5 separate regions of the Homo sapiens genome follow, and regions 1, 2, 3 and 5 are each linked to region 4. Evidence: fine-mapped expression QTL. A gene starts in region 4. Each other region holds a variant in brackets. All regions are shown on one strand. Distances are between the middles of the regions. Region 1 has its middle 45 kb from the start of RNF144B. Region 2 overlaps RNF144B (ring finger protein 144B). Region 3 overlaps RNF144B (ring finger protein 144B). Region 4 holds the start of RNF144B (ring finger protein 144B). Region 5 overlaps RNF144B (ring finger protein 144B).

What was found. PIP is the estimated chance that this variant, and not a neighbour inherited with it, causes the effect.
Region 1: its variant is fine-mapped to the expression of RNF144B in skin (TwinsUK, PIP 0.95).
Region 2: its variant is fine-mapped to the expression of RNF144B in whole blood (TOPMed, PIP above 0.99). The same link has a PIP of 0.9 or more in esophagus mucosa, lung and sun-exposed skin.
Region 3: its variant is fine-mapped to the expression of RNF144B in whole blood (TOPMed, PIP above 0.99).
Region 5: its variant is fine-mapped to the expression of RNF144B in whole blood (TOPMed, PIP above 0.99).

What each region holds. Positions count from the first base shown.
Region 1 is chr6:18,339,449-18,345,354 of GRCh38, forward strand. No RefSeq gene overlaps it. Among named protein-coding and RNA genes, the nearest start is that of RNF144B, 45 kb to the right of the region's middle. The variant CA/C (reference allele first, on the strand shown) is at 2,840.
Region 2 is chr6:18,468,542-18,474,447 of GRCh38, forward strand. It overlaps RNF144B (ring finger protein 144B), which reads left to right. Exons shown (of 8, transcript NM_182757.4): 8 at 1-329. Among named protein-coding and RNA genes, the nearest start is that of MIR548A1HG, 51 kb to the right of the region's middle. The variant T/G (reference allele first, on the strand shown) is at 3,093.
Region 3 is chr6:18,423,274-18,429,179 of GRCh38, forward strand. RNF144B (ring finger protein 144B) reads left to right here. Exons shown (of 8, transcript NM_182757.4): 3 at 4,308-4,412. It overlaps LOC124901271 (a long non-coding RNA gene), which reads left to right. Exons shown (of 2, transcript XR_007059487.1): 2 at 260-719. Among named protein-coding and RNA genes, the nearest start is that of RNF144B, 39 kb to the left of the region's middle. The variant A/G (reference allele first, on the strand shown) is at 3,104.
Region 4 is chr6:18,384,514-18,390,419 of GRCh38, forward strand. It overlaps RNF144B (ring finger protein 144B), which reads left to right and starts at 2,837. Exons shown (of 8, transcript NM_182757.4): 1 at 2,837-3,117.
Region 5 is chr6:18,409,290-18,415,195 of GRCh38, forward strand. All of the region lies in intron 2 of RNF144B (ring finger protein 144B), which reads left to right. Among named protein-coding and RNA genes, the nearest start is that of RNF144B, 25 kb to the left of the region's middle. RefSeq lists an enhancer at 5,343-5,906. The variant A/G (reference allele first, on the strand shown) is at 3,057.

The sequences.
Region 1 (5,906 bases), 45 kb before region 4:
AAAACTTGAAACATTAGTTCTGATTTTTCCGGTATACATCATCTACTTAGCCCTACATGTCCAGGGAAGATAAAACATACAGTGGAAGGTTTGAAAAATAATAAACTCATCCGTTGATTTCAATCAGGTAATTAATTTTTTGGTAATGCTTGCTTTACAGATTTGCAGATAAATCATGGCAGGAACTCAATAAAAAAGAATGAAGTGTAGGACAATTTTAAATATTATTATTTATTGCCATCAGTGAAAGTCACTACCTGTGTTTCCTTTTGTTCACTGGACCCTCTTTTAGGCATGACTGCATATCACCTCCTTATCTGCTCTCCTCACAACTGTGATGCTGTCACTCACACTTGACCCAACCTACTTGCTCTTGGCCTTATAAGGGAATGCATGTCTGGTAGAAATCGTAGCATCTCTATCTCAGCTTTGGTTAAGGGTGGAATTCATCTCCAGAATTGTATACCTTCCAGTACTACTTTATGCTGTTGGGCCCAAAGCTGTCCATAACCCACACAACACCACCCAGTGGCTTATGTTCTAGGATCAGAGCTATAAAATCCAGAAGGCTCATGATGCTGCAGGTTCTTTGCCAGCCCATCTAGACGTCCCTGCTACCGTCTGAACTTTTATGTTCTTCCAGAAATCTTATTGTTAGCCAGGTGCAGTGGCTCATGCCTGTAATCCCAGCATTTTGAGAGGCCAAGGCTGGTGGATCACTTGATGCCAGGAGTTGGAGACCAACCAGGCCAACATGGCAAAACCCCATATCTACTAAAAATACAAAAATTAGCCAGGCATGATGGTGCATGCCTGTAATCCCAGTTACTCAGGAGGCTGAGGCATGAGAATCGCTTGAACCTGGGAGGCGGAGGTTGCAGTGAGCCAAGATCATGTCACTGCACTGCAGCCTGGGTGACAGGCTGTCTAAAAAAAAAAAAAAAACAACAACAAAACACTCAAAATCTTATTATTGAAACCCTAACCCCTAAGGTGATGGTATTTGAGGGTGGGACCTTTGGGAATTGATTAGAGTATGGGAGCAGAGTCCTCATGAATGGGATTCATATTCCTATAAAAGAGATACCAGAAAACTTGCTGCTTCTGTCTTCTGCCTTGTGCAAACACAATAAGAAGTCAGTACCTATGAGCCAGAAATTGGGCCCTCACCAGACACTGAGTCTGCCTTGATCTTGGACTTCCCAGCCTCCAGAACTGTGAGAAATAAACTTGTTGTTTATAAGCTACCCGGTCTATGGTATTCTGTAATAGCAGCCTGAATGGACTAAGACTCTCTACTTCTCCACTTCTCTGGGATTTGTTTTTGTGCATCTAGTCCTGGTTTTTTTTTTTTAGACTCTTTCTGTTTAGCTATTGGGCACAGAGTCCAGTATTGCTAAGGCCTCAGTGTTTGCCCCAGGGCCTGGCAAATAGCATTGGACCTCCAGAACCCTGGAGCTCAGGCAAATTTCCTTGAGGCTGAACTATAGTGTGACTCTTCTTAGATGGGTTGTTTGGGATTGGCATCACGTGATGTCCCTAAGCAGGTAGATAGGAAAAAGCTGATGTTTAACAGCCATTTACCATTGTTTTCCCTAAAGACAGTATTTTCAGGCCACTGGCCAAATGCTTAAAACTCCTTGGAGTAAGGCATTGGGTTTGCAGCTCCTTTCTCCCCCTGTGCCACTACTCAGGAAGAAACCTAAGGCAGGACAAGGAAATTGTGTTGTGTTTCCCTGCATGAGTTAGAGACATCAGATTCTTTTTAAAGGCAGCATCATGTCTTGTCATTCCTTAAAGTGGGTGGACCTCAGCCACTTGTCCTGACTTGTTGAGATTTGCACTGAGAAGCAGTATGTCTGAATGAAACTCCTGTCCTCTACTGAGACCTCAGGAAGCCCTGCCTTTTCTCCGAGCCAAAGATCTCCACAGCTCCACCACCTCCAAGAATCCTTTTACAGCCAGCCGCAGTCACCCTCTGCCCGGCCTCCTCTCGCCCCAGCACGCACCCCCACAACTGGCTGTTTCTTCAGTCTCCAAATCAACTTGGAAGGTTTCTTCGGCTGCTTTATTTGTTTTTCTTTTTTGCATGGTGCTCTGCACCATGCAAAACAGTTTGGTTCTCTCCATCACTGAGTGAGGCAGTATAGTGTGTTCATGACAATAGGATTATATCTGACTTGCAGATTAAGTGAAATAATATACGTAAAGCCCCAAGCCCAGCACTTGGTATACATGGTAGGGATGTAATAAACACTAACTTGCTTGATTCTTTCTCTCTCTGTCTCTCTGTGTGTGTGTGTGTGTGTGTGTGTGTGTGTGTGTGTGTGTGTTTCTGGCAGCAAGTGATGTGTGGACAGGCTCTTCAACTTTTGCTTGGTGAGCAGCATGATAGTGTTATGATTAAGAGAGCAGACCTTGGTCCTCTACTGTTTGGGTTCAGATTCATTCTCTAGGTAACTTTGGCTTTGACTAAGCAAACTTAGTCAATTTACTTAGCCTCTATGCCTCCGTTTTTAAAAAGTCTGTAGAGTTAGCACTAAGAATAGTTCCTAGTCATAGCACTGTTATGAACATTAAATTAGTTAATAGATGAAGTGCTTGTAATACCATGTGCCTGGTATGTAGCACTAAGTGTTAAATCTGGGAGAAATGTCCTGTTGTATTAGTAATAAAAGTGGGACCACAGAGGCCATGTTGTATAAAGCAGTGGGCTTTCATTCCTATGCAGCATTAAGGGAGGTGAGTTCCGTCTCTTTGGGAAGACCCAGGTCATATTGGAGCTAAATTCATGGAATAGGGGCTTCAAAACTGGAGTCAAAAATCCCTTGAGTTGTCT[CA/C]AAAAAAAAAAAAAATCCCTTGAAGCAGCTTTGCTGGGATCAGTATTTCTGACTCAGTTGAGTAAGACAGACACATTTCTCAAACCCCATCATAAGAATCACCTGGGGCACTTATCAGACACACCGACTAGGGCCTTGCCCCAGACCTACTGAATCAGAGACTTCAGGGAGGGGCCTTGGAATCTGATGTCTAACAACCCACACAAATAGTACCACCTGGAAACACTAAGTCGCCTGGGAAGCTTAAGAAAATGCCTGTTGCCTGGGTCTCATGCGCTGGATGTTCTGATTTGATTGTTTTGGGGTTTTGGCATACAGGCATGGGACCTTTTTTTTTTTTTTTTTTTTTTTTTGAGCTTCTCCACTGTATCTAATGTAAGCCAGGGTTGAAAACCACTAAAATCCTATATAAGTCAGTATTTTTCAGAATCTGTTGGGGGTGCGTGTTAAAAATGTAGATTTATAAGCCCCAGCCTGCTGAATTGGACTCCTGGTAGTTGGGGTAGAATGAGGGTGGGAATAGAGGGAGTGAGGCCCTGGAATTTGCATTCAAAACACTTTCCATATGATTTTTCTGCATGCAGGACTTTGAGAGCTACCTGCTGAATAGTGGTTTCCCTTAGTAGGCATGTGTGAAAATAGCTGAATGAATGACACCTAATCATTGCAGTATTTCCTTTTCTTCTCAACCAATCTGTTAGAAATTTCTTTATTCAAGTCAGGTGCAGTGGCTCACGCCTGTAATCCCAGCACTTTCAGAGGCCGAGGCAGGCAGATCACTTGAGGTCAGGAATTTGAGACCAGCCTGGCCAACATGATGAAACCCTGTCTCTACTAAAAATACTAAAAGTAGTCAGGCGTGGTGGCAGGTGCCTGTAATCTCAGCTACTCAGGAGACTGTGGCAGGAGAATCACTTGAAACCGGGAAGTGGAGGTTGCAGCGAGCTGAGATCAGCCACTGCACTCCAGCCTGGGCAACAGAGCAAGACTCTTGTTTCAAAAAAAAAGTATTCATGTACTGTAGGGAAATTCATTACCTTCATTACTTGCTCTCTTTTGATTGGTATAGAGTTTCTAGTAGTTGCTTCATTTTTAATATATTCTGATTTACCCTGGCAGAAATATATGGGAGTTTTTTATTTACATTCCTGGCCATGTGAAGGTATCAGTTCAGATGATGAAACCTGATCAACATACCACAGAACACGACTGGCTGAACAGGTTGTGTAGTTCGGCACAGAGTAGCTGTATTCTCAAGGCTGTTAAAGCAAGGGTCTGACACCACTAAGTGTTAGTAGTGGGTTGATATCTATTATGGAAATGGATATGTAAAGCAGCCAAAACCCGATGGCATGAAATAGTTACATAGTCAACCTCTCTTGAGATCTAATTCATATTCCACTCACCAATAAACTCTGATACTTGGACTTCCCATATAGCTTGTCTAGACCCTTGCTGTTTAAAGTGGGGTCCATGGGCCAGGAGCACTGGCATCACCTGGGAACTTGTTAGAAATGGAGACTCTCAGACCCCACTCCAGCAAGCCTAGCATGTTGGGTTTGCCTGATGATGTGGCATCCTGTTTTTCTATATCATACTCATTTCTATTAGTGTGAGTCAGCATCCATGAGTTTGATTAACGTCAAGACACTGATGAAGTCATTGCTGAGCTTGTGAGGCTGAGAGCCGACCCTGGGCAGAGGTGAATTTATCAAGAGAATATCCCTAAAGGGGTGGCCCATTGGCTGCCTTCAGGTGACCTCCCTTCTTGTGGGGTGTACTTTAATTTTAGCATTGAGACCCACTACAAATTGCCTCAGATAACAGCAGGGGGCTCATTTCCATTCTGGCATGTGCACTCCAGTGAACTCCCCTTGTTCCCAGATGCATGAACATGCTTCCTCAAGCTGCTTTTCAGCCAGCCTGGACTTCAGCAGTTTGTGAGAGTCTTTGCAAATGGTGAAGAAAGAGTCTTGTTGAAATCCTATTCGGTACATCTGTCTATGAATTATTATAACTTTTTTTCAGGCTGGGTACCGTGGCTCACAACCATAATCCCAGTACTATGGGAGGCTGAAGGTGGAGGATTGCTTCAGTCCAGAAGTTTGAGACTGGCCTGAGCAACATGCAAAACCCCATCTCTAAAAAAAAATAAAAAAATAAAAAAAGCCAGGCATGGCGGTGCACAGCTGTGGTCCCAGTTACTTGGGAGGCTGAGGCAGGAGGATCACTTGAGCCCAGGAGGTCGAGGCTGCAGTGAACTTTGACTGCACCACCGCACTCCAGCCTGGGTGACAGAGCTAAAAACAAACAAACAAACAAAAACAACAAGGATTTTTTTTTTTTTTCATTTTAAAGACTACTTATTCAGAGCAGTTTTAGGTTCACAGCAAAATTGAGAGGAAAGCATATGGGATATTCCATATACTCCCTGTCCCCACACATTCATGGCCTCCCCTGTTCTCAGTATTACCCACTACCTCTGGTATGCTTAATAGTTTTTAATTGAAGTACATGATTTATTCACACTTCGTTAGTTTTTTTTAAGATTAAGAACATTTATTGCATTTATTTTCTTTTTTTTTTAAATTTTTTTAGTATTTATTGATCATTCTTGGGTGTTTCTCGGAGAGGGGGATTTGGCATTAGTTTTTACCTGATATCATTTTTCTGTTCTAGGATCCCATCCAGGATACCATACTCTATTTAGTCATCATCCTTCCTTAGGCTGATCTTGGCTAAGTTTTTCAGACTTTTCTTGTCTTTGATGACGTTTTAATTTTGGGGAGTACTTTCAGAGTATTTTTAGACTGCCCTTCCATTGGGATTTGGAATTTGTTGGATGTTTTTCTCATGATTAGATTGGGGTGCTAGGATTTTAGAAGGAATACTGCAGCAGAGTGTCTTTCTCCTCACATCATATCAGGGGTACCGACTACCTCTTTAAAGACAATATCTTCAAATACAGTCACATTTTGAGGTGCTAGGGGTTAGGACTTTAACATGTGAATTTTGGGGGAACACCATCAGGTCCATAACACTCCTCAAAGGAGTCTCGGATAGATA
Region 2 (5,906 bases), 84 kb after region 4:
ATTATTCTGAATTAAATGTATATTTCTTTAGCCTTCCCTACACAGTACTAATAAAAGACTTTTCTTTCTGTTCATGAATGGATGCCTTTATGTGATATAGAGTCATGTGTGTATGTGTAGCTTTAAGGGCAATTTCAGAAATGCATTAGATGAATGACATTTTATAAAGCGATCACAATTGATATCTACAGGCTATTATGTCTCATGTTGATTCATGATCCAGGAAGTTTTATGTATTTAAAAAATTGCTATCGTGTTATATTTTTCCAATTTTTGGAGAAGAAAATAGCTGTTTAGGCTCTCTAGCCACAATAAATGTAAGCAGGAAATCAAGTGTGTTAACCTTTGTTGCGCTGCACAATTCTAGGCATGTTCAGTTTTATCCTTTGAGAACCAACCAAGTTACTGTTAAATCCTAGGTTCTGAATTTACAAAATGTACCAGAATTTGCAATACCATCTATGGAAATAACTCTTGGCTACTTTACTTCTTAAAAGAAATAGGGTCAGGGGGTCAGGTGTGGTAGCTCACGCCTATAATCCCAGCACTTTGGGAGGCCAAGGTGGGCGGATCACCTGAAGTCGGGAGTTCGAGACCAGCCTGGCCAACATGGTGAAACCCCGTCTCTACTAAAAACACAAAAAATTAGAACCCTGTCTCTACTAAAAATACAAAAAAAAAAAATTAGCTGGACATGATGGCACATGCCTGTAGTCCCAGCTACTTGGGACGCTGAGGCAGGAGAATTGCTTGAACCTGGAGGTGGAGGTTGCGGTGAGCCAAGATTGTGCCATTGCACTCCAGCCTGGGCAGCAAGAGCGAAACTCGGTCTCAAAAAAAAAAAAAAGGGGGTGGGGGGGTGGCAAGTGTAATGCCTTTGTTACACACTTTCTTCTTTGTAGGTGTGATAGTCCACACTGCCAGTGCATAGGAACTCATCATTATCCAGAGCAATAACCAATAATACAGATCTTTGATCATTCTAATAAAAAATGCTGCCAAGTGTCAAAGCCATTTGTTCTGTACAATAAAGGTTGGACTAAACGCTAAGGTCAGTTCTAACCTTCCAAAAGTCTGCTAGAGGCATGTGTTTCCTTGTTATGATTTTTTAAGAAAGGATTTAAGAGTGTTAAGGTCATTTCCATTTGAATTAGTATTCGAGGCAGGTCTTAAGTTGGGTGCCAAAGATTACTTAACAACTAGAGCTTGTGTTTCCATAAAACCGAAAGCTCACTCTCCTGTACTGGTGTTGAAACCTTTTTATTGAAGGCTGGATGCTTCTAAAATGGTACCTGCATACAAAGGTTTACAACTGATGTACAATTCAAATTTCATTTTCTAATCATTCAGTTTTGAGGAAATCAATAAGATCATTTAAAAATACTTTTGGGTTATGGTTTCTTAATTTTCTTAATCATCTCCTAGAATGTCAACATTATTTCATTTTGAAAGTGTGCTTATTGTTTGCTAACCTTGAATTTGCATTCCCAAAGAAATATTGAATGAACCATTTTATATAGCAGTGATTTTAATCAGTGCCCTAACCAGCAAACTCATTGCAATTTAAGTTATGAATCTGATGATTTGGAGGAGAATAATAATTAGGTTTTTCTGTAATTCAATTATTTTCATTTGTTAGATAATAAATCTAGTTTTCTTTAGACCCTAAAGATAATGCCCAACACTATGAGAAAAAGGAAACGAATCTGCTTAAATGCGTTAATAGCAATTATAATGTTTTATTTGTATATTTTTACGTAAACTAAAGAACTTTTGAGAACAATCCTTTGAGATAAATGGAGCAGATTAGATCCATTTTATGAAGAAAGCAATGTTTTGTATTCATGTCTTGCTTAGGTTCATACTGATGAGTGACAGCCAGGAAAAGAATGCACTACGACTTGAAAGTTCTATAATGCTCTTTCATTAGTAATTTCGAGTCTTTCACTCCCAAATCTGTGAGTCCTAAGAGAACATAGTACCCTCTCATTTATCTGCATCAGTGGAGATGTATGTAAGAACATATTTCAAATCATCACTTAGAGGCTGTGTTTTGGTGGGTACCCCTGAGATCCCCTCACCTCACTCCTTGAAGTTTGGCTAGAGAAGGACAGTTGATGGAAGGTAACTAGAAAAATAACAAGGCGGTCTGCATCTGACTTGCTAGTATTGGAAGCAGAATTATAGCTGAATCTATATACTTACCCCAAATGCCCAAGTGCTTGCCTCTCCCCTACAAAGTACATTCTCACAAGTTCCTTTTGATATTTACAATCAAGATTCAAAGGGACTGTTGACTCAGATCTAACTCCTTTCTTATTAACACTGCCAACTTGTACTCAAATGTGTATTTGTAGCCTACCATTAAATCAATTGGCAGTTTCCAAAGCTAGAAAGGGGACTCCAAGTAATGAACTTAATTTCTCATACATAAAGAAGTCCTTTCAATTCCATTTTCTGCCTTTATGATTTTCGATTTTTATCAGTGCTATATTTGCCCTCAGTTTTGCTTTTTTTTAGCTGTTAAATCAGGAATTCGGGCTTTCGATGAGAAGGAAATTAAGTTGAGTGTTGGTCGTTTTATCTTGTAGTTCCTTAAGGACCTGACATGATTCAAGAAGATATATTTCCTTTTGTGGGGAGTGGAGGGGTGGTTAACATCAATAGTACTGAACACATTCAGATAAAATGAACATGAAGGTATTTTTGAGGTAAGTTATGGGACTTCTGATTATTGATCAGCCTCGACTTATGTTTTGAAGACAAGCCAATTCATTTTAAAACAAGTTCAGAAATCCACATACCACCCTGTGTGGTGTGTCCTGAATTCCAGCCTGGCCCTGGGACTTTGGCACCACAAGGGCATGTGAACAGGGTGCTGGGAGAGGGCTGGCAAACGTGGTGCCACCCTGGCCACAGAACAAGTGTGCAGCGTCCTCTGTCCTCCCGGCCCTCTGCCAATCCAGGTGGTGTGGGGTTGGAGGCAGACGCCCAGCTGGCAATAAGATGGCTTCAGTTCTAGGCCTGGCTGTGCTCTTGACTGGTGGTATGGTCTGGGGCCAGCCCTTTATTGTATAGCGTCATTTCATCCC[T/G]ATCTCAGGTCAGGCTTAGGTGGATCGAGTAAAATCCCGAATGTCAAAGTGCTTCTAAGTGTTGGTTGTTAGGGAGGTGTGAGGAGAGCGAGCCACTGAGTTAGGTGTGCTTGCAGCTGTTAAGTGTAGTTGATCAGTTTTTTGTTTGTTTGTTTTGAGACAGTCTCGCTCTGTTGCCCAGGCGGGAGTGCAGTGGTGCTATCTCTGCTCACTGCAAACTCCGCCTCCTGGGTTCAAGCAATTCTCCTGCATCGTCATCCTGAGTAGCTGGGACTACAGGCGTGTGCCACCACGCCCAGCTAATTTTTGTATTTTTAGTAGAGACAGAGTTTCACCATGTTGGCCAGGCTGGTCTTGAACTGCTGGCCCCAAGTGATTCATCTGCCTCGGCCTCCCAAAATGCTGAAATATTACAGGCATGAGCCACTGCGCCTGGCCGAGTCAATCAGTTTTTAGCCAGGCATTGTTCTGAGAGGAGAAGAGGGGGCAAACTTGGGGCAGGAGGAGGGTAGTCCTGAAATACATTTCAAGCTTGTCTGTGTTGAGAGAAGTATGACCCCCTCCGTAAATGTATTTTCTTTTTAGGTTTAAAAAAAAAATCCTATGTCATTGTTTAACAAATATTTCACAAAATAGTTAAATCTAAGTATATGCTTCATTAAAATGAGGGGAATATGTGGAAAGAAATGCAGAATTTATATCAACACATTGATTTTGGGGGGAAGGTTTATGGTAAGAACTTAGTGTTTAAATAATGCCTTATAGTATGCAGTTTCCTTTTGCTCTTCATACTACTCTAGAAAGTAGATATTACTCTTCACACCCCCCCACCCCCAATGTACAGATGGGAGATGAGACTCAGGGGTTAGAAGACATGGTGCAGGTCGTACAGCAGGTGAGTGGCAAAGCTAGAACTTGAACCCACATCTTGCATGAACTAACTCGGGACCTGTTTGCATTATTTTAATTTTTAAAAGCATCTAAAAACAACACATTTATTACTTCAGTTTCTGTAGATCAGAGGTCTGACGTGATGTTGCTGGGTTCTCTGCTCGAAGTTTCACTGGGCTAAAAATCAAGGTGTTGGCCAGGTGTGGGGGCTCATGCCTGTAATCCCAGCACTTTGGGAGGCCGAGGTTAGCGGATCACGAGGTCAAGAGATTGAGACCATACTGGCCAACATGGTGAAACCCTGTCTCTACTAAAAATACAAAAATTAGCCGGGCGTGGTGGTGGGCACCTGCAGTCCAACTACTCAAGAGGCTGAGGCAGGAGAATCGCTTGAACCCAGGAGGTGGAGGTTGCAGTGAGCTGAGATTGTGCCACTGCACTCCAGCCTGGCCACAAAGTGAGACTCTGTCTCAAAAAAAAAAAAAAAAAATCAAAGTGTTGGATGGGGCTGTGTTCTCCTCTGGAGGGAGGCTCAGAGTCCTATTCCAGGCTCTCTGGGTGTTGTCAGAATTCAGTTCCTTCTCACACCTTCCACGTGGCCCCCTCCATCTTCAAGCTTGCAACAGCTCATTGAGTCTTTCTCATACTTCAGACCTCTTTGGCTTCCTCTTCTGACACATCTCTGGCTTCCATTTTACATTTTAATGGCTACGAGAGTATGTATATTTGTCATTTTCAAAAGGAAATTTAGCTTTTTAAAATCTGTTCTGTTTCCCAGCCCCATGAAGGCAAAGAGTTTTCACAGGTAATAGAATCTGCTTGAAGACATCACAAACTTGGGGAAGAGTTAGCAAAATCTAACTTCTACCTGGGAACTGTTGACTTACCGTTGGAATTGGGTCTAGTATAGCCAAGGAGATCAGCAATTCTGCTTCTGGCTAGTGTCCTTGGGAGGTCCATTTGGTCTATATGTGGGACAGATTTTCTTAAATGGACTCAGAAGAAAACCTGATCTGAGCTTTCTAAACAAACCTTCAGAAGATTCAGGATTGGATTGAATCTTGTTTTGGATTCAGGAAGGACAACTCTTTTAAGAGCTGGCTTAAAGTACAGGATGGTGTTTCCATTCAAGTCAGACCAGTAAAGCAGATGGATCTGAGTTAACCAGTCACTGCCTGTTGTTGAGGGACGTGCAACAAAAGTCAAGGTCATTGCCTCTTCCCCTCTCCCACCCCCAGTGCAGCAATACAGACCCGGCCAGATGCTGTAGATGTTTTAAACTAGCATAGCCATGCTTTTGACTAGAAATGAAAGACTGGAGGGAAGTTTGATAGCTCTCCTAGTCTCTTGTGGACAAGTTACAATTTCTCTTGGCTTCGGTTGCCTCATCTAGAAAATTAGGAAGTAACTGTTTTCTAGGTTCAGTACAAACCTAACATTTTGACTAAGATGGAAAAAACCTCCAGCCCCCTCTGTGAGCTCTATATGCATGAAACTAGTTAGCTCAAGGGAAATTCTCCTTCTTAGACAAAGTAATCCTCAGAAGCAGCTTCCAGATGCTGTTATGGATAATGCCAGAAGCATATGAAATATATTGCCAATTTACTTAAAATGAGCAAATTCAAAGAGTAGTGGTTGAACCTCATGGTTTATCTACAGCTCTTGGTGGCTAAAAAGACCTATAATCAAAGTTGCTTGGGGAATTTCCAGGGACATGTTTCTTCTAGTACCTATACAAAAAATATCAGGACCTCACTCTCCTTATTTGAAGCACACCATGGATTATTATGAGTGTGTTAGTCTAAGGGGCTTGTTATTAATTTTTTTCAGTATACATTGTATTTTCTGCAAATTGAGTTAAATTTAAGGTATATATATTGATAGCATATAGGATAGTATATATGCATGTATGTTTGTGTGAAT
Region 3 (5,906 bases), 39 kb after region 4:
GAGGAGACTTTAGAGCTTGTGCTTCAACCTACATGGCTGGAATCCAGTTTCATTGGCTATAGATTATAATGCTTTATTTTTTCTTAGAAAAAAAAACTTTAGGTAGGGCATAATTTAGTGATAGAGAATGAGGAACTATATAGTACGTTTTTAAAAATATACATATATTCCCTGCCCACTCCTGTGATTTGTTCTTGGGTAGGTACATAGTAGCTTTGTCTTAACACTGTGACCCTTTTTGCCATGTCCATCATAATAGGTGAGAACACCTTATATGAAGAATGCCTGTGACTTTGGTACATCGGAATCTGATACCCTTGAAAGGGGTCTAGGAGACACCTGTTTCTGAGTAGATTCCATTGCATACAATTCATAGACTCTCAGAGTTGGAAGAGACAATATGAGTCGTCTGGTTCACCAGGTGTTTGGTTACATTTTTGGTTAGATCCCATATGAATCCTTAAAGGTTGTGGAGTGAGTTTGACGAACAATCCTTATTATTTTGCATGACCCTTCATGGCCTAAAAATAATTCTGTGTTTTACCAAACTAAGTAAAATGTTGACTATACAAAAGAAAAAGGTTTTTTTCCCTTGGGTCATTTGGGTTTTGAGATGTTCTATTTGAAACATTTTCCTTACAATTTGTTACCTGTTAAGAAAATTGCTTATTTAAATATCTGTTGAATGCTACTTAATAAATGTAACTTTCAAAATGTGACTAAATGGTGGTAGTTTTCTTTGTTAATAGTGATTATTTTATTTTGCCATTGTTGCATTGCTATAATTTGTTTTCATTTTCTTTGTTTCTCTCTTTATAAGCTAGATGCCAGTTTTCCCCCCTAGAATTGTTAACCATTTACCTGTGTTTTGTATGACATGCACATGGGATTCATGTGAACGTTTTCACTTATTTTGCACTTTTTAGCCAGAGATACAGAAGAAGAGAGGGACACTCGAGATTAAATGTTTTAGTGAAAGTTAATGGGCAGCATATAACAAGCCTGGGGTACTTGAAAATTCAGTAAAAAGCAATAACTAGGGCTGGTTGTTTTCCCTCTTTGCCTTTGAATAGAAATGCATGCCCACACTGATGGAATGTCAAGTGCCTGTGCTGTAGGACTACTTAGCAACCTGCCCTTACAAATCTCTATCTTGAACCAGTGTTTCTTAGCATTAAAAACAAAGGGTATGTGTACTTAAACCCTGGAGTCAGTGTACAGAGGTCTAACTTCTCACCCAAAATCGTGGGTCATATAATATTGTGGCCAGGAGAGTGCTTATAGGAAGTTTCAAAATTCATTTAGTTGATATATTGTGGTTTGTAGTGTACCTAGGAACATTACATTATTAGTAAGAGGCACATCCATTATAAGCTCTTGGGAAGGTGTATATTTCAACTTAACACATTTGCAGTTATATTTGAAATGAATGTGTTTGCCTATAAGGACTCACTTAGTATCTTTAGTTCCTATTTAATGCTAAACTTATTCTGTAGACCCAAATATTTCTAAGAGCCTTGCATAGAGGCACCTGGGATATTCTGTTACAAATATCTGTTCTGTCTACACAGCTTCTCCACCTTAAGTGGTTTAACTGGTGCTTTGCAGGGAGTGGAGAAAGGATATCTCAGAAGGTCAAAGGATTAACATTTTCCCACAAAGTCTTTGATGGAAAGTCTAAGACCAGGAGAAGAGGAGTAATAACATGACCTATTATTCTGTAATTTGCAAATTCATGAAGGGCTTCCATATATAAATTTCACGTGTATGTGTGTATGTGTGGGTGTGTGTGTGTGTGTGTTAAAACCTGTGAGGTAACTATAACAGGTATTATTGTCCCTACTTTTTAAATTAAGGAAAGCAAGTCTAGGTCATAGGCTAAGTCATTTTCCCATTGTCACCTAGTAAAGTGGACCCTCCACCCAGGTGTTAGGATCTGAAGTTCTTTGCATTGTTCACTTTGTTTTCCTCAAACACCTTCCCCTTGAGCCTGGAGACTATATCTTTCAGTCTTTTTACTTAAATTTCTTTAAGTGGCTGCTGGGGGTCAGTGGGAAGATCAAGGCAGTAACAATGGAACAGGTGTGGCTGATGGAAGGCTGAGATGTCCTCAGCAGCAGAACAGGATGGACAGGCTTTCACACTGTTTATTCATTTGTCCCCTGGCAAAACACTCCTTTTGGTGAGCCGCCTTGACTGTTCCCCTGGGTGTTCGCCTGCCCATTGACATTCTTCCCCATATTTCCTTGCTGCTGCTCTCTTCTATGTCCCACTGCTGCTGCTGCTGGATACCATGTTTGGCACAGTAAATCCTAGAGCAAGTGATTTTTCACCCTTCTGTTGAACAAGGAAGTCAGGGTTAAAACACAGTAATTATATGGCGGTCAAGTGCAAGAGAGGAGTGACTGCAGAGGATCCCTGTTCCCAGATACCTTTTATTCCTGAATTTATACTAAATCATGAGCATTTGTGCATGTCTTTTAAATATCATTTGAAGACTCTTTTCATGATTCTGCACATTCTATCGCATAAATTTAGCAACATTTATTTCAGTGTTCTATTTTGGGTATTTAGGTTATTTTCTAGTTTTTGCTGTGATGAATATTATAGAAAAAATTAACTCCTTGGAGAAAAAAACTGTTAACTATTTGAAGAGATACAAGTCTGGTTTAAATGGTTTGCCCTAGTCATTGATTCATCAGTACATTGTAAGTTATTTATAACCAGATAAATACATGATTAGTTTTCTGAAGTAATATAATAGTGATACTAGTTTTATTTTCAGGTGGAAAAAATGAGTAAAGATGGTCAATAACAGGGATAGATTTCACAATTACATCATCAATATTCTGACCCTAGAATTTTACTTTTGGCTCATGCTTTTATAAAAAGTTGGTGCAACAGCAATATTTTTAATGCAGTAAGTTGATACATAAATGTATAAATCTGAAAAATCTAAACCCAGTTGTAAATAATCACCACTTTGTAAGAGTCGTTGCTTCAGTGGCTGGCTTAAGTATTTTTGGTGGAATGTACTCCTCAACATTTGAACTTGACTTTTTTTTGGTCATGCATGTAGAAAAGGTTTACCGATTATGAGCAA[A/G]TTAGTAGAAGTTGAAGAACCAATTACTTAGAGGTTTATTTCCTGGAACTACTGCCTTCAATTTCTTGTGCAGTTGCATAGAGAGGAATAGGGTGAGGCATTACAGGTTTCCATAAAGCTATCAGTCCCTCTCTTAACTTTTCAGTCAGACTCACATCTTCACCCACTGTCCAACATCCAGACACAACAGGCAGTGAGCAGACCAACTTTGTTCCTGGTGTTCTCCCTCTTCTCTCTGGGTTTCTTTTTTCTTTTCAGTTTCTTCTCTGGGCTTCTTTTTTTCTATTCAGTTTCTTCTCTGGTTTTCTTTTTTCTATTCAGTTTCTTCTGTGGGTTTCTTTTTCTATTCAATTTCTTCTCTGAGTTTCTTTTTTCTATTCAATGTCTTCTCTGGGTTTCATTTTTTCTATTCAATGTCTTCTCTGGGTTTCATTTTTTCTATTCAATTTCTTCTCTGGGTTTCTTTTTTCTATTCAATTTCTTCTCTGGGTTTATTTTTTTCTATTTAATTTCTTCTTTCCCCAGGGGACCAGTGCCTTTTTTCCTACTCCAACCTCCTTAACATGGCATCCACCAAGGCCCATATTTTTGAGGTCTCATTGTCTTTGGGATAATGTCTTTGGGACAATGTGTCTCTTGTCTTTGGGAAGCAAGTTATCTTTGCTGTCCCCAGTCAGCAGGAAGTCACCTGACTTTCCCAAATTTGACATTATCTTTTCCAGGTATGTTTGCTTTTAAGCGTGGTCCTAGAAATGTCACTGCCTTAAGCTTACTTTGATTGTGTGGCTAGCTCAGTGCAAGGGTCACAGCGTTCTGTTCTAGTTTTGGGTAAACTTTGATGGAGAGGACCACTAGGTAAAAATGGAATTAGGAACTCATATTTTTTTTTTTAAAGGAGGGGGCCTTTAGGGTTAGAAAATAGTGTTTTTTCTTTTCCTGATCTATGGTGGCTGAAATGTGTGAGCATAGGGAAATCTGACTTGAATAAACTCTTAAGATGAAGTCATACATAATTAATTGCCTGTCTCTGCATTCTTTCCAAAGTGATGGCTCTTAGTATTCACACTTGTGATAACTTATGTTTCTTGAGTACAAGAGCCTCAGGACAGCCAATTAAGGAAGAAGACACAGTGGTGGTTCTGTTATGTAACCTTTCTGCTACTGTAATGGAATGGGCAATTGTCTTTTTTTTCTTAACTTCCAGTGCCTGAAACAGTACATGCAGCTGGCAATCCGAGAAGGATGTGGGTCTCCCATCACTTGCCCTGACATGGTGTGCCTAAACCACGGGACCCTGCAGGAAGCTGAGGTATGAATGACTACCATCATCTTCCCCTCTTTCCTATTTATGTTATTTATTAGGATCTTGAGTCTTTATGTATTTCCCTACCAGGGAGTCTAGCAAGAAAATACAGAGGTTAACTTTTTAAAGGAGCACTTTATTGCAGCTTACCTTTGGACTTTTTATACAAACTGTTAAAGCTGTCATTTATCTCAGTTCTATTTACATATACCATCTTGAGTGTTGAAGAAGCTATAGAATAGGCAAAGTACCAGAAATCAAATTTACCAAATGTGAAGTTAGGAGGCTGATATGATTTGGCTCTGTGTCCCCACCCAAATCTCACCTTGAATTGTAATAATCCCCACGTGTCAAGGGTGGGACCAGGTGGAGATAATTGAATCATGGGGGCGGTTCCCCCATGCTGTTCTCGTGATAGTGCGTTCTCCTGAGAACTGATGGTTTTATAAGGGGCTTCCCTGCCCTTTGCTCAGCACTACTCCTTGCTGCGGCCATGTGAAGAAAGATGTGTTTGCTTTCTCTTCTACCATGATTGTAAGTTTTCTGAGACCTTCCCAGGTCTGCAGACCTGTGAGTCAATTAAATACCCAGTCTTGGGTATTTCTTCATAGCAGTGTGAGAATGGACACATACAGAGGCTGAATAGTGAATGGTCTTGTAAATTGTAATACCCTAAAGATAAATAGACCATGGATTAGCTGCAGTTATGGAAAATATAAACTATTGTGATTCCACAATGATAGCCTGAGTTGAACCATTTCCAAAGAGTAGAGACCTTTCAATTGATCTGTAGCAGGCATCTGAAATCTTTTTCTTTTTTTTTCATATCCCCTCGTTTGTTCAATCACCGGTTATTGGTTTGCCTTTAAATCTTCAGACTCTGCTCACTTTAAATTAGAATATAATGAACTCTTGTTTATTCTTAGGGTGTTTGTAAGCCTCTGAACGACATCCCAAGAAACAGATGAAATCAGTTGTTCATTTAGCAAACACAGAACACCTGCTTTGCACCAGGCACCACCACCCCCCAGTTGTTTTCATTGCCAGTATACTACCTAATCCTCTCAACAGACCTCATGAAATTGGGTGTTGCTTTCAGATAGGGAAACTGAGGCCCAGAAGGTTTAAGTAACTTACCCAAAACCACATATCTAGAAAGTAGAAGAGATAGGATTCTAATCCATTGCTTTCTGACTGCCATAATTACGTGGCTTTGAGTAGAATTAGGTTGGCCAGGTGCTGTGGCTCACACCTGTAATCCTGGCACTTTGGGAGGCCAAGGCAGAAGGATTGCTTGAGTTCAGGAGTTTGAGACCAGCCTGGGCAATATAGCAAGACCCCCATATCTACAAAAATAAAAATTAGAAAATTAGCCAGGCATAGTGGTGCATGCCTATAGTCCCAGCTACTCTGGAGGCTGAGGTGAGAGGATTGCTTGAGCCCTGAAGGTCAAGGCTCCAGTAAGCCTTGATCACATCACTGCACTCCAGCCTGGGCAAT
Region 4 (5,906 bases):
GTTTACCCTTCTCTACCACACCTATTGGGCTACTTGAAGACATAGATTTAAATCACTGATATGGTTTGGATCTGTGTCCCCAGCCAAATCTCGTGGTCGAATTGTAATCCCCGATGTTGGAGGTGGGGCCTGGTGGGAGGTAATTGGACCATAGGGACAGAGTTCTCATAAATGGTTTAGCACTATCTCCTGGTGCTGTTTTTTGTGACAATAAGTTCTTGAGAGACCTAGTTGTTTAAACATGTGTGGCATTTCCCTGCCCCACCCCGCCTTGCTTCTGTTCCAGTCACGTAAGACATGCGTGCCTGCTTCCCCTTCACCTTCTACCATGATTGTAACCTCCCTGAGGGCTCCCCAGCCATGCTTCCTGTGCAGCTGCAGAACCATGAGCCAATTGAACTTCTTTTCTTTATAAATTACCCAGTTTCAGTTATTTCTTTATAGCAATGTGAGAACAGATTAATATAATCACCTTCTCAGAGAAGACTTGATTCTTTTCATCAACTCCTTTCCTTTAAATTCTTCTTCTCTGTGCTCCCAATAGCACATCATGCTTAAGTCTATCATATCACACATTATGTATCACTCACACATTGGGTACAACTATCAGTACCCTGATAATTGATTTGCTTGTCTTACTCCTTCCCTGGATTGAGAGGTCTTTGAGGACAGGGAGACCATGTCTAATATCATTATCTTAATACAACCTAGCAGATTGTCTGGGAGGAAATCAATAAATGCTCCAGAGAATGAATATCCATTCACACTGTAGACTCCTTAGGAAGATCTGAGAGAGTTTGTTCACATAATATTATAGCATTCAACGTGTTTATTTAGTCTTATTAAATTTTGACTGCAATTTAAAAAAAATTTGCATAGTTGCATGGTTGAAAATAATCAGTGGTGATGTTACTCAGTTGTGCAAAATATTTGGGATAATAGGCAGCACTATTCGTGCTTATGTTCTCATTCATATTGGCAGCAGCTTCTTCCCTTATCCTGTTAACAAGAGATTATAATTTATGAATGGTAATTTGAAAAGTGGACTCTGTGTTGAACTTTGGTTTAAGGCTCAGGAGATTTGCATCAACACCAATGAATAAACTAACCTCTTAGAGGTTGCTTTTTATCTTTCCTAGTTCCTGTCCACCAAAATGGTCACTATACCAAGAAAATTCCTTGAAATAGATTATCTCAGAACCTAAGCCATTGCTAAATCTGAAGGTTGGACTTCCTTTGGGATGGTTTTCATTTACATTCACCTTCCTCATGTAACTCAGATTTAGGTCTCATTCTAGCTTGGCCTGTGTCTGGTTTGGGCCAATCTCTTAAATCTTCCTGGACATCAGTTTCCTTATTTTTTTTTTTTTTTTGAGACAGAGTTTCGCTCTTGTTACCCAGGCTGGAGTGCAATGGCGCAATCTCGGCTCACTGCAGCCTCTGCCTCCCAGGTTCAAGCGATTCACCTGCCTCAGCCTCTCGAGTAGCTGAGATTATAGGCACCCACCACCACGCCCAGCTAATTTTTTGTATTTTTAGTAGAGACGGGGTTTCACCATGTTGGCCAGGCTGGTCTTGAACTCCTGACCCCAGATGATCTGCCCGCCTTGGCCTCTCAAAGTGTTGGGATTACAGATGTGAGCCACCGCACCCAGCCCAGTTTCCTTATTTTTAAAATCAGGTTATTTGCTAAAATAGCTAGGAAGACTTTTCAAGCTCAAATATCCTACCGTGGGTTCTTTTATCATCTTATTGCCCCTGTCCTTTTTCTCTTCCTCCCTGACTGGTGAGCTGGTCCTCCTACCTGCCCTAGCATGGCACATGTAGATACACTGTGTTATTCAGCACTTTGCTTTGACCTAGAGGTTTTCTTCAACTTGGAGGGCTGAGAAGCAATGTTTGCTTGTGTCGTTTGGAATGGTGCCTGTTGGCGTGCACAGATCCTTTCCACAAAGGGCCTGTGAGTCCCTTCCTTTTAGGAAGCACATTCCTGACAGTGGTTGCAAAAGTAGAGAGGGATTGCAGAGTGAACACAGATTCTTGTGTCAGAGCGACATTCCTAAATGGCAATGTTCAGCAGACTTAGGTGATTGTGATCTATGGGGGATATGGGGAATGAGTAGGTATGCGATTCATTATGAATGTCACACAAATGAAGTGTCCAAGGGTTTGGAGCAAGGAAGCACTTCATAATACCTCACAGCTTCTGGATTATTTTGTTACATTTTTGTTTAATTGAGGGTACAACCAGTTAAGTTACAAAGCACTTCAAGTGAAATCATTGTTTCATCAAGAAGTGTCTGTATTTTATGAGGTAAACTAAGATTATTCCCGATTTGATTCACAGGTATTCTAATTTCATCATTAGATGCAAAAGGACAAGTGAGGTACAAGCTGTTTTTTGATGAGATGTGCATGGGAAGTGTTTCTATAAAACAGTTGTCTGCCACGTGGGAAGGCAGGTCTGGGCTGTTAGAAGTAGAAGAAAGAGATTTAAAGAGCTGGGAAGGAGGGAGAAAATAAAGAAAGGTGGCCTGTGAGGATATGTACAGACAGAGAGGTAGCAGGCGCTTAAGGCCAAGAGGTGAGCTGTCCCTGTCTGGGCAGAAGAAGTGCGCTAGGGGCAGCTGCCTGCACCCCCTGCTCTGAATTCCTGCAACAGCGGTCCCAGGAGAACAAGAGACAGGTCCTGACAAGCAGTAGAGTCGGTGCAGCGCGCCCGGGTTCGGATAGGGTTAAGGCCAACACCTGCAGCTGAAGTACGACCCACATGGGAAGTAGGAAGTGCGGCGCCTGAGCTTCCTGTATAAATAAACGCGCTGCTACCGCTGCTGGCGAGCTGTGCCCCACGCTCCCGCTGCAACAGTCCCGGGCATCGCAGCTGCCAGTCAAGGCTAGGAGGCGGTCGGGGACTCCGCCTCCTCCCGACCCGTAGGTCTGGGAGCGCAAGTCCTGTTGCAGTCTTGCAAAGTGTAAAGCTGTCAGCCGCAGAGCACGGAGGAAAGACGGAGAGAATGGAAGAGCTCCTGTCCGGTGTGCCAGCAGCCCGGACTGGCGGTGAGCGCGAGGGAGGCTACTGAGAAGCCCGGCGACGGAGGAACGCAGGTCTGCTGCCAGGTAGGTTTAGCGAGCTTTTTAAAGGCTACAGGCGTTGCAAGACCGGAATGGTGTTGCTGGACTAAGGAAAAAGGACAGGAAACTCACTGTGACACCACAATTTTTCGATTTTCTGTCTCTAGTGCTCAAACCATACAGAACTGAATTCATTCTGAATGCCTTAAACACCTGTTAACTTAGAAGAAAAATGCCTTTGTTAAAGGAAAGTAGTTTCATTTCTAATAAAACAGTTTCTATAATAGAATGTATTGTAGAATCCGAGATTAGACCAGACCTCTCCCTAGGTCTTAAGGGGAGACCAAAAGTTGGCATAATCTCGGATTATGCATTATAGTGCTTATTTTATCAGGTAATTGCTAATGAAACAGTGAAACTCTGATACTACGAGAGCCATTCTCAAATTTAAGTTAAAATCGAACTGATTGTCGTTTGTGCAGGGAAAAGGTAGGTATCTTTTGCTTATTCTTTCTAAAACACCTTTTGTTTTTCTCATGAGTTTCAAGGATCCTGCTGTAAGTCTACTCCTCATGCATATACACTATTCACATAAAGATTTCCCAGAAATTAATTCCCTTCTCTGGGAAATGTTCTTTTTTCATGTTCTCATAACAGACTGTCAGTTTCATATTGCTTTCTGCCACATGTATCTTATCAAAACATTAGCTCTGAGGTTCTTAACAGGACTATCTCTGCTCTTCCGATTTGGCATTTCTGGACGTTTATTTGAACATTGAGAGGTATAAATTAAATGGCAATGTATCTAACATTTCTGAGGAAGCAGATTAGGGGGTGTCTGTGCCCAGAAGCAAAATAAATGAACTTTGGGATGACTCAGTTTTTAGGGTGTGGGTAAGAGGCAAAAGGAACCTAGCCAGTCCTAACTGAGTTGCTGGCTAATTAGAGTATCTGTCTGCCGCAGCTTTCACTGAAATGAGCCTCTTGGTCCCTTTCACATCAAATCCCTCTGTGAGTCCCTCCTTCTCCTTAGTTTATCTTTCCTTCACAACCTGGGTCCTTTTCATGGACAGCAGTGCCTTAAATACTTCTAAAACTATCCTGAGGGGGAGAAAAACCTATAGCAGATCCACAAAGCCACTTGTAGATAATTGTATTATGAAATCCAAGGTCATGGTTTCACACAACTCCTGCTCTGCCCTTGCACACCTTTGACTGGCATTTTTTTTTTTATTTTTGTCGTGGGCATAAACTTAGAAAAGTGGGAAAGGGAAAAACCTCAGTTTCAAAAGTAGTCTCTGACTAATTAATTATCTTGATTAAAAAAAGGTAAACATATATAGTGAACGTGAAAAAGATGTTGAGTAGTAGAATTGGGTTGCTTGGCTTTTTATTTAAAACAAACAAAACTCAACCAAAAAAACCCCCCAAAACCCCAAACAATCACCCTAGATAACTTTCTCCTACACTACTGTGCTGGAAGTCGGGCTTGAGTGTGGTCAAATCCTGCCCATTTACCCAGAGTTTTACAAATATTTACAGTCATCTATGCCAAATATCTTTGTGCTGAGTCCCAAAGAACATTCTCAGCATTCAAAAGGCCCATTCTCATGAATGGTTTCAGTTCATTGGCAATTTAAAGGCATTCAGGCTTCCAAACTAGGTCAGCTTAAGACATGTCTTTTTAAAATAATCAGTTTTTGGGTCTCAGATTATGAACCAGGTTTTTGGAGCCAAACTCTACAGCAGAGAGAAGAGTATGCTCTCTCTGGAAAGAAAAAGCTTATTTTATCTACCTGGTATGACCATTTAACTTCCTGAAAAACGTCTTTCTCCTCAGTAGTATGAATATTTTTCATCTGAGGAGGTGCACTTAAAATTTCCTTCTTGAAAAGTCATTTCAATATTTTAGACGTTTAGAAACATTTATATGTATGTCAGAATCCTTTCTCCGAAGTGTTTCTGCTAATCCTGGCTTCTTTGTTTCCCCTGGCCTTGACTTTATGACATTACTTTCTTGGAGAGTGAAGTTTTTAGTGTTTGAAATCTCCAGTTTGAGATAGAGGTCAGGAATCATGCTGAACCCAGATGTTACTGAAGGAACAAAGTCTGAGCAGTTTTGGGACTAAGCCTACTTTGTACAACTGATTATTTTGGATGTGGGAAAAGGGCCAAGCTGCCAGACAAGTCATGCTTTTCACTTGGACTTTGGGGAATAGGTATCTGTAGCCATTGCTCCTAAGTACTGAAACATTTCTTTCAGGGGTGCCTACCTTAATTTATAGAAGCTCCTTACCTGAAACAAATGGTCAATATTTTCAGCTTGTGAATTTCTGGAAGTGAATACAGATGAGAACCAGGCCTTTAATATTTTCTCTCCTCCAAGTACAATCAGAAAAGTTATCCACTCTACTACTGAGTGACTGATTTGCTAGGTGCTAGGTTAGATGCTGGGATATAAAGATGGCTAAGATGTGGTCTCTGTCCGGAAGAAATTCTCATAAGGTCAGAAGTGACTTGGGTCTAGAGTGGTAGTTCTGAATTCACATTGCTTTGCCAGATTATAAAAAGTACTTCGATGTTTGTCACCTCGATCATCTTAATTTTCTTGGTAGTGTTACCTTGACCATTTGACCATTAAGAGGTATATGACACCTAAGTTAATTTATGTAAATATTTTAATTCATAATTTTTACCTTTAGGTGTATGTGGGAGGTCTTGGACTAAAGTTTTAGTTTTATTAACTTTGGCATTTGCTATTTACCCAGTCGGTGAGTACTTTGGAACCTAATGCATCATACCATAGTTGTTATTAAAAAATGGATAACTATATA
Region 5 (5,906 bases), 25 kb after region 4:
ACTGCTTGAACCCGGGAAGTGGAGGTTGCAGTGAGCTGAGATCTTGCCACTGCACTCCAGCCCGGGCACCTGAGTGAGACTGTCTCAAAAAAAAAAAAAAAAAAAAAAAAAAAACCCTGGAAAACTCTTCTTTTTCTGGGTAGATCTCTTTGAACATACTTTAACATATCTTACCTTCTTGCCATAGGTATATTAAGAAATAGTAACTTATGCCCTCCCCCACCCTCTTGGGTTGACAGAATTCTTTTGGGACAAACTTCACTTGCATAACCTTTTTTTTTTTTTTTTTTTACTTTTTGAGATGGAGTTTTGCTCTTGTCCCCCAGGCTGGAGTGCAATGGCACGATCTTGACTCATTGCAACCTCCGCCTCCTGGGTTCACGCAGTTCTCCTGCCTCAGCCTCCTGAGTAGCTGGGATTACAGGCAGGTGCCATCATGCTGGCTAATTTTTGTATTTTTAGTAGAGATGGGATTTCACCTTGTTGGCCAAGCTGGTCTCGATGTCCTGACCTCAAGTGACCTGCCCGCCTTGTCTTCCCAAACTGTTAGGATTACAGGCGTGAGCCACTGCGCCCCGGCCTACATAACATTTTTTACTTCGATCATAGGCGTAACAAGTACTTTAGGCTTGGTATTCGGGTAAGGGGTGATGTTATAATGTGGAACAGAATTTTATTTCTTTTTACAAAGGAAGTTGTGAAAAGATAGTTTGGTGATCTGTGCTTGTATGTTGTGTAGACTTTTCCCCCCTTAAGCATGCCTTTGCCAAAGTTTAATTCTTCAAACCACATATCAGAATGTAATAGGCTGGCCAAACATGCAAATCATGACCAGAGAGCAGGCAAAAGTTGGTTTCTGATGAGAGAACTTTTCCATTGTTGCCACTAAGTCACCAAAGTTTATGTATTTCTTCTTTTGAAGTTGCACCCTTATTCCAATATTCTCTAAGTCTATTCCCACCTTTGTCCAGACTCTACTGATCCATTTGGTACTAGTGTGTGCCAGGCATGGTGTTAATTGTGGAGCAAGTGGCAGTCATCAGACACAACCAGCCCTGCTGTTATGTGGGCAGTAGACCCTCTGATAAAGGAAGTACAATATGTTATAAAGCATACAGAAACCCACCTAAAATAGACTCAGGGAGGTAGGAGGTTTCCTAAGGGCTGAGACTGAAAGATAATAGGGATTGCTTGATGGCATTGTTGATGGGGCTGTGGGTGAGAACAGTGCTCCAGGGAAAAGAGGCCAGCCACATGTGAGAACACAGAATCAGGGAAGAGTGACCTGCTGAGGAACCAAACCGGAAGATGTTCCTGGGACACATTGTTGGAAGTGTGGGTGTGCTCAGGCAGGAGGCCAGAGAGGCAAGCAGAGACTAGATGGAGGGCCTGGTATGCTGTGTTAAAAAAACATTATGGAGCCACTGGAAGGCTTTGTTTGGGAATGAGATAGGGAGGATGGCGTCGGTACAGGATAGAGAATGGACTGAAAGTGGGCAAGGCTGGAGCAGGAGGAGGGAACCATGGCAGGCTGAAGCAGAGCTCGGAGAACAATGTCCTTATCAACTTAGGATACATGTGTATGGCAGACTGCAGTTTTGATGCCTGGAGTATTTAAATTATTTTTGTGCCCCAATTTCTCTTTTTTCCTATCCATTTGGGATACTGTCAGCTTTCTTTTCTTTTTTTTTCTTCTTTTCTTTTCTTTTTTTTTGAGACGGAGTCTCATTCTGTTGCCAGGCTGGAGTGCAGTGGCGTGATCTCTGCTCACTGCAACCTCCGCCTCCCGGGTTCAAGCAGTTCTCCTACCTCAGCCTCCTGAGTAGCTGGGACTACAGGCACGTGCCACCACTCCCAGGGAATTTTTGTATTTTTAGTAGAGACGGGATTTCACCATGTTAGCCAGGATGGTCTCGATCTCCTGATCTTATGATCTGCCTGCCTCGGCCTCCCAAAGTGCTGGGATTACAGGAATAAGCCACCGTGCCCAGTGAAAGTACATTTTTAAAAATCATGGCTAGTACTCATAGAAGAAATAGGACCCTAAAGTACAAAATAATCATGTTTCAGGGCTCTCTTGGTTTATTACATTGAAGATAATTTTTAATTATAAATGTAACACATGCTAATTTAAAAATAAACCAAAAAACCTCAAAAAGCATGTGCATGATTCATATATATATATATATATATATATATATATATATATTTTTTTTTTTTTTTTTTTTTTTTGAGACGGAGTTGTGCCCTGTCGCTCAGGGTGGAGTACAGTGGTGTGATCTCGGCTCATTGCAATCTCTGCCTCCTGGGTTCAAGTGATTCTTCTGCCTCAGCCTCCCAAGTAGCTGGGATTACAAACATGCGCCACCGCACCCAACTAATTTTTGTATTTTTAGTACAGAGGGGGTTGGCCAGGCTGGTCTCGAGCTCCTGACCTCAGGTGATCTGTCCACCTCAGCCTCCCAAAGTGCTGGGATTACAGGCGTGAGCCACCACGCCCAGCCCACCTGTACTTTCTTCTAGACTCTTTCCCTGTGTACTTACGCACATCACTTAATAGAGAAATGGGATCTTTAACTACAGATACTTTTAACTTGAGTTTTACAAACATAGTACATTGTGGACAAGTTTCTGTGCAAAAATATACAGACCAACCTTCCTTTTTAAGTATTGTATAGTGTTCTATGATATGGTTGTATGAAAATTTATTTAACTGGGCCCCTCCTAAATAATGGATTTTAAGGTTGTTTCTAGTTTTTGCTATTATGAATACATTTTTTTTACTTATATAAATGTGAAAATACCTGTCCTTAGGATAACTTTTTAGAAATAGAATTGCCTAACCAAAATAGATGTACATTTTAAATCAGTATGTGTTACCAAATTACTGTTCCAAACTGTTGCACCAGCTTGGCAACTCCACCAACAGAGTAGGAACAGAGGCCTCTCTTTTGACACTCCGGGTATTTTCCAACTTTTCACCTTCTGTAATCTGGTATGTGAAAAGAACATATCTCATGGTTTAATCCATACTTCCTCTTTTTAGGAGGAAGCAA[A/G]TTGTTGTAAGAGAAGCTCATCTCATGAATCTATCTTTAAAAAACATACAGTATGCTCAGTGCCAGTATAGTTTCAACTGATTTTATACCTTGGTATTAATAGTAATCAAGTTAGAAAAAAATGGGCCATATCTAGAAAAGTATATTACACATAGAAGACATGAATGAATGAAAAAATGGTGGTGTTCAGACTGAGGGAGATGCCTTATCACACAAAAAAATTCATGTCCAGTGACAAAATGTTACTAAGTAGGTAAAGGAGGTTTAAAAAATTTAGGCAAGTTGAAAAAGGGTGGTGAGTTAACTAGAAAATTCAGTTTTTTAAAATCCCATTTTCTGTATATTTCAGTTCATTAAAGATTGGTTATATAAGGCTTATCTATGTGGATTCCAGATATGCAGTGTACCCCTTGGAATCAGGTGAGACACAGTGCCTCATTTCCATGGAAATACATGGCTCTGTGTTAACTGAAAGCCTCCATGGTTTTGAATCATTTCCCACCCACAGTAAGGAGGTCTTTTTGGTTTGACTCTTCTGGAAAATATGTGTGAGGTATTTACTACATGAATGTAGGGTATTTTTTCAATCTGCTTAAACCTCATTTTATTCATCTGTTTAAAAAAATTACGGAAGGAAAAGCAAGGGCATTTGAGTACCTTTCATATAATATGTAATATGCAAGGGTACTATTTTTTCCCCCATTTACTCTTCCAGTTTACAGATAAACCAATTCAGAGTTAAATAACTTGCCCAGGATCTGTAATGTTAATCCCTACATCATAGTGTCGTTTGGAAGAAATAAAAACAAGCTCTGTGAAAATATATAATGTATGGCCTAGCACATAGTATGTGGTTCCTAAATTTTTTTTGTTAGCATGAAAATGGATGAAGGCCCATATTTGGCTTTTGTGATCTTAACCTGAAATGTCTAAAGCTTGACAATAGCCTATAAAATGCAAAATTGACAACTGGCTACTGATTTTATATACGTAAAAGTTTAGTCAGTACAAAACAAATGTAAAGAACTACTGGTTTAAAAAATCCAAGGAGTTTTTCAGAGAACAGAAAGTATGTAATCAGAATATAGTGGTGGCCATGGCCTCATATTAGAGATTGAGCATGAACATGAGTGTTCTGTGAACTTTCCACTGTGTGATTTCGGGTAAGTTATTTGAGGAAACCAAGGCCGAGACATTCAGAGGTCTGATTTACACAACTGGAAGTTCCCAGTGCATTTAGCATATTTTCAGATGTTGAAACTGAAGTCAAGGTTCAAGGCCAGGCATTCTGCCTCAATGACTGATGTTCTCCCACCCTCCAGGCGCATTGTGTCTGTGGAAGTTACTGGTGTTCTTAAGAGGACCTCAGTCTGACGGTTGTTTCCAAGTGATTCTTCTGTGTTGAGGGTGTTTAATGCATGGGTTACTGCAGAGCACAGAGACCTTTTCTGCAAATGGAAAAAAATATTATAGCTTAACATCTGCTTTCCCTAGGTAATGTGTTAATTAAAGATTGTTTTAATATGGAATGATGTCTAGCCTTTGAAAAACTTTATCTTACGGTTTATGGTATTGATAACCTTCAGAAAAGGAAGACTGGTTCAAATTATGTCAATTAATATGAAAAAAGCCCACTCAATATGAAGCCCCTTGACTTCTAAAAACTTGCTTTTTAGAAAATGTTAAAAAAAATTCCAGGTTTTGCAGGATAAATCCTCGGGGGAATATTGTGAGGTGAGGAATAGTCGTGGTCTTGATGCAATGTAACTTATAATTAGAAAGATGCTGATTTTGCTGTGGAGTCATTGAATATCATTATTTCAAAATAATTTTGAATAAAATGAGATTTCTAATAACCAACCTAGTCATTGTCCAACCTTTTCTACTTTTTCAGAGTTCAGTTCTCTTAAATCTAAGAGATTCTCTTTTGTAATGTAGCTCAAGAGGAAGTTTAAGGGTTAGGTCTATTCTTAACTGATGTCCCTTGTTCCTATCATTCCATGTATAGAAATAATATCTTCTTGAGGAAACTGTTAAGCGTCACTCTTTCCCAACTTTTGGGTCATTAATATGAGCTATTTTGCATGCTGGCTTTGTAGGTTATATCCTGTAGGAAAAAATGTTGGTGATGAGTTAGCTTTATTCTGTCACTTATACAGTGTTAATATTCTTTTAAAATTTCAAAAATTCAGATAGTTATTAATATTGCTACCACTAGTTTTATTTAAAAATGTTTTAATTTGTATAGATACGTAGTAGGTATATATATGATTAGTTTTAATTAAGATATTATTTCATTATAATTTATTCAAACTGGTTTAAATACTGAGACAGATTTTATTTAAAATATAGGATTTCTGCTTTTAAGCAGTATTAAAATCTGAGATTTGATGAATGGTATAAATTTTATCTTTTGCTTTTAGTTTTAAAATATTGTACAACATCCTGTTTCTATTCTTGAAGGTGAAAAAGAACAAAAACTTTTAAAAAGATGGAAAAAATTGTACAACAGTTTGTTATGAAACAAGATAAAGATTTTTACAACAAATACCTGTAGAGTTATCCCTTGGTATCTTCAGGATATTGGTTCCAAGCCCCTTCCCACTCCCCACCCCAAAGATACCCAAATTCATGAATGCTCAAGTCCCTTATATAGAATGGTGTAGTATTTGCATGTAACCTATGTACATCCTCCCATATACTTTAAATCATCTTTAGGTAACTTATAATATCTAATACAATGTAAATCTATATAAATGGGTTTTCTACTGTATTTTTTGTGTATTTCTTATTGTGATTTTAAAAATATATTTTCTGTCCGTGGTTGGTTGAATCCATGGATGTGAAATC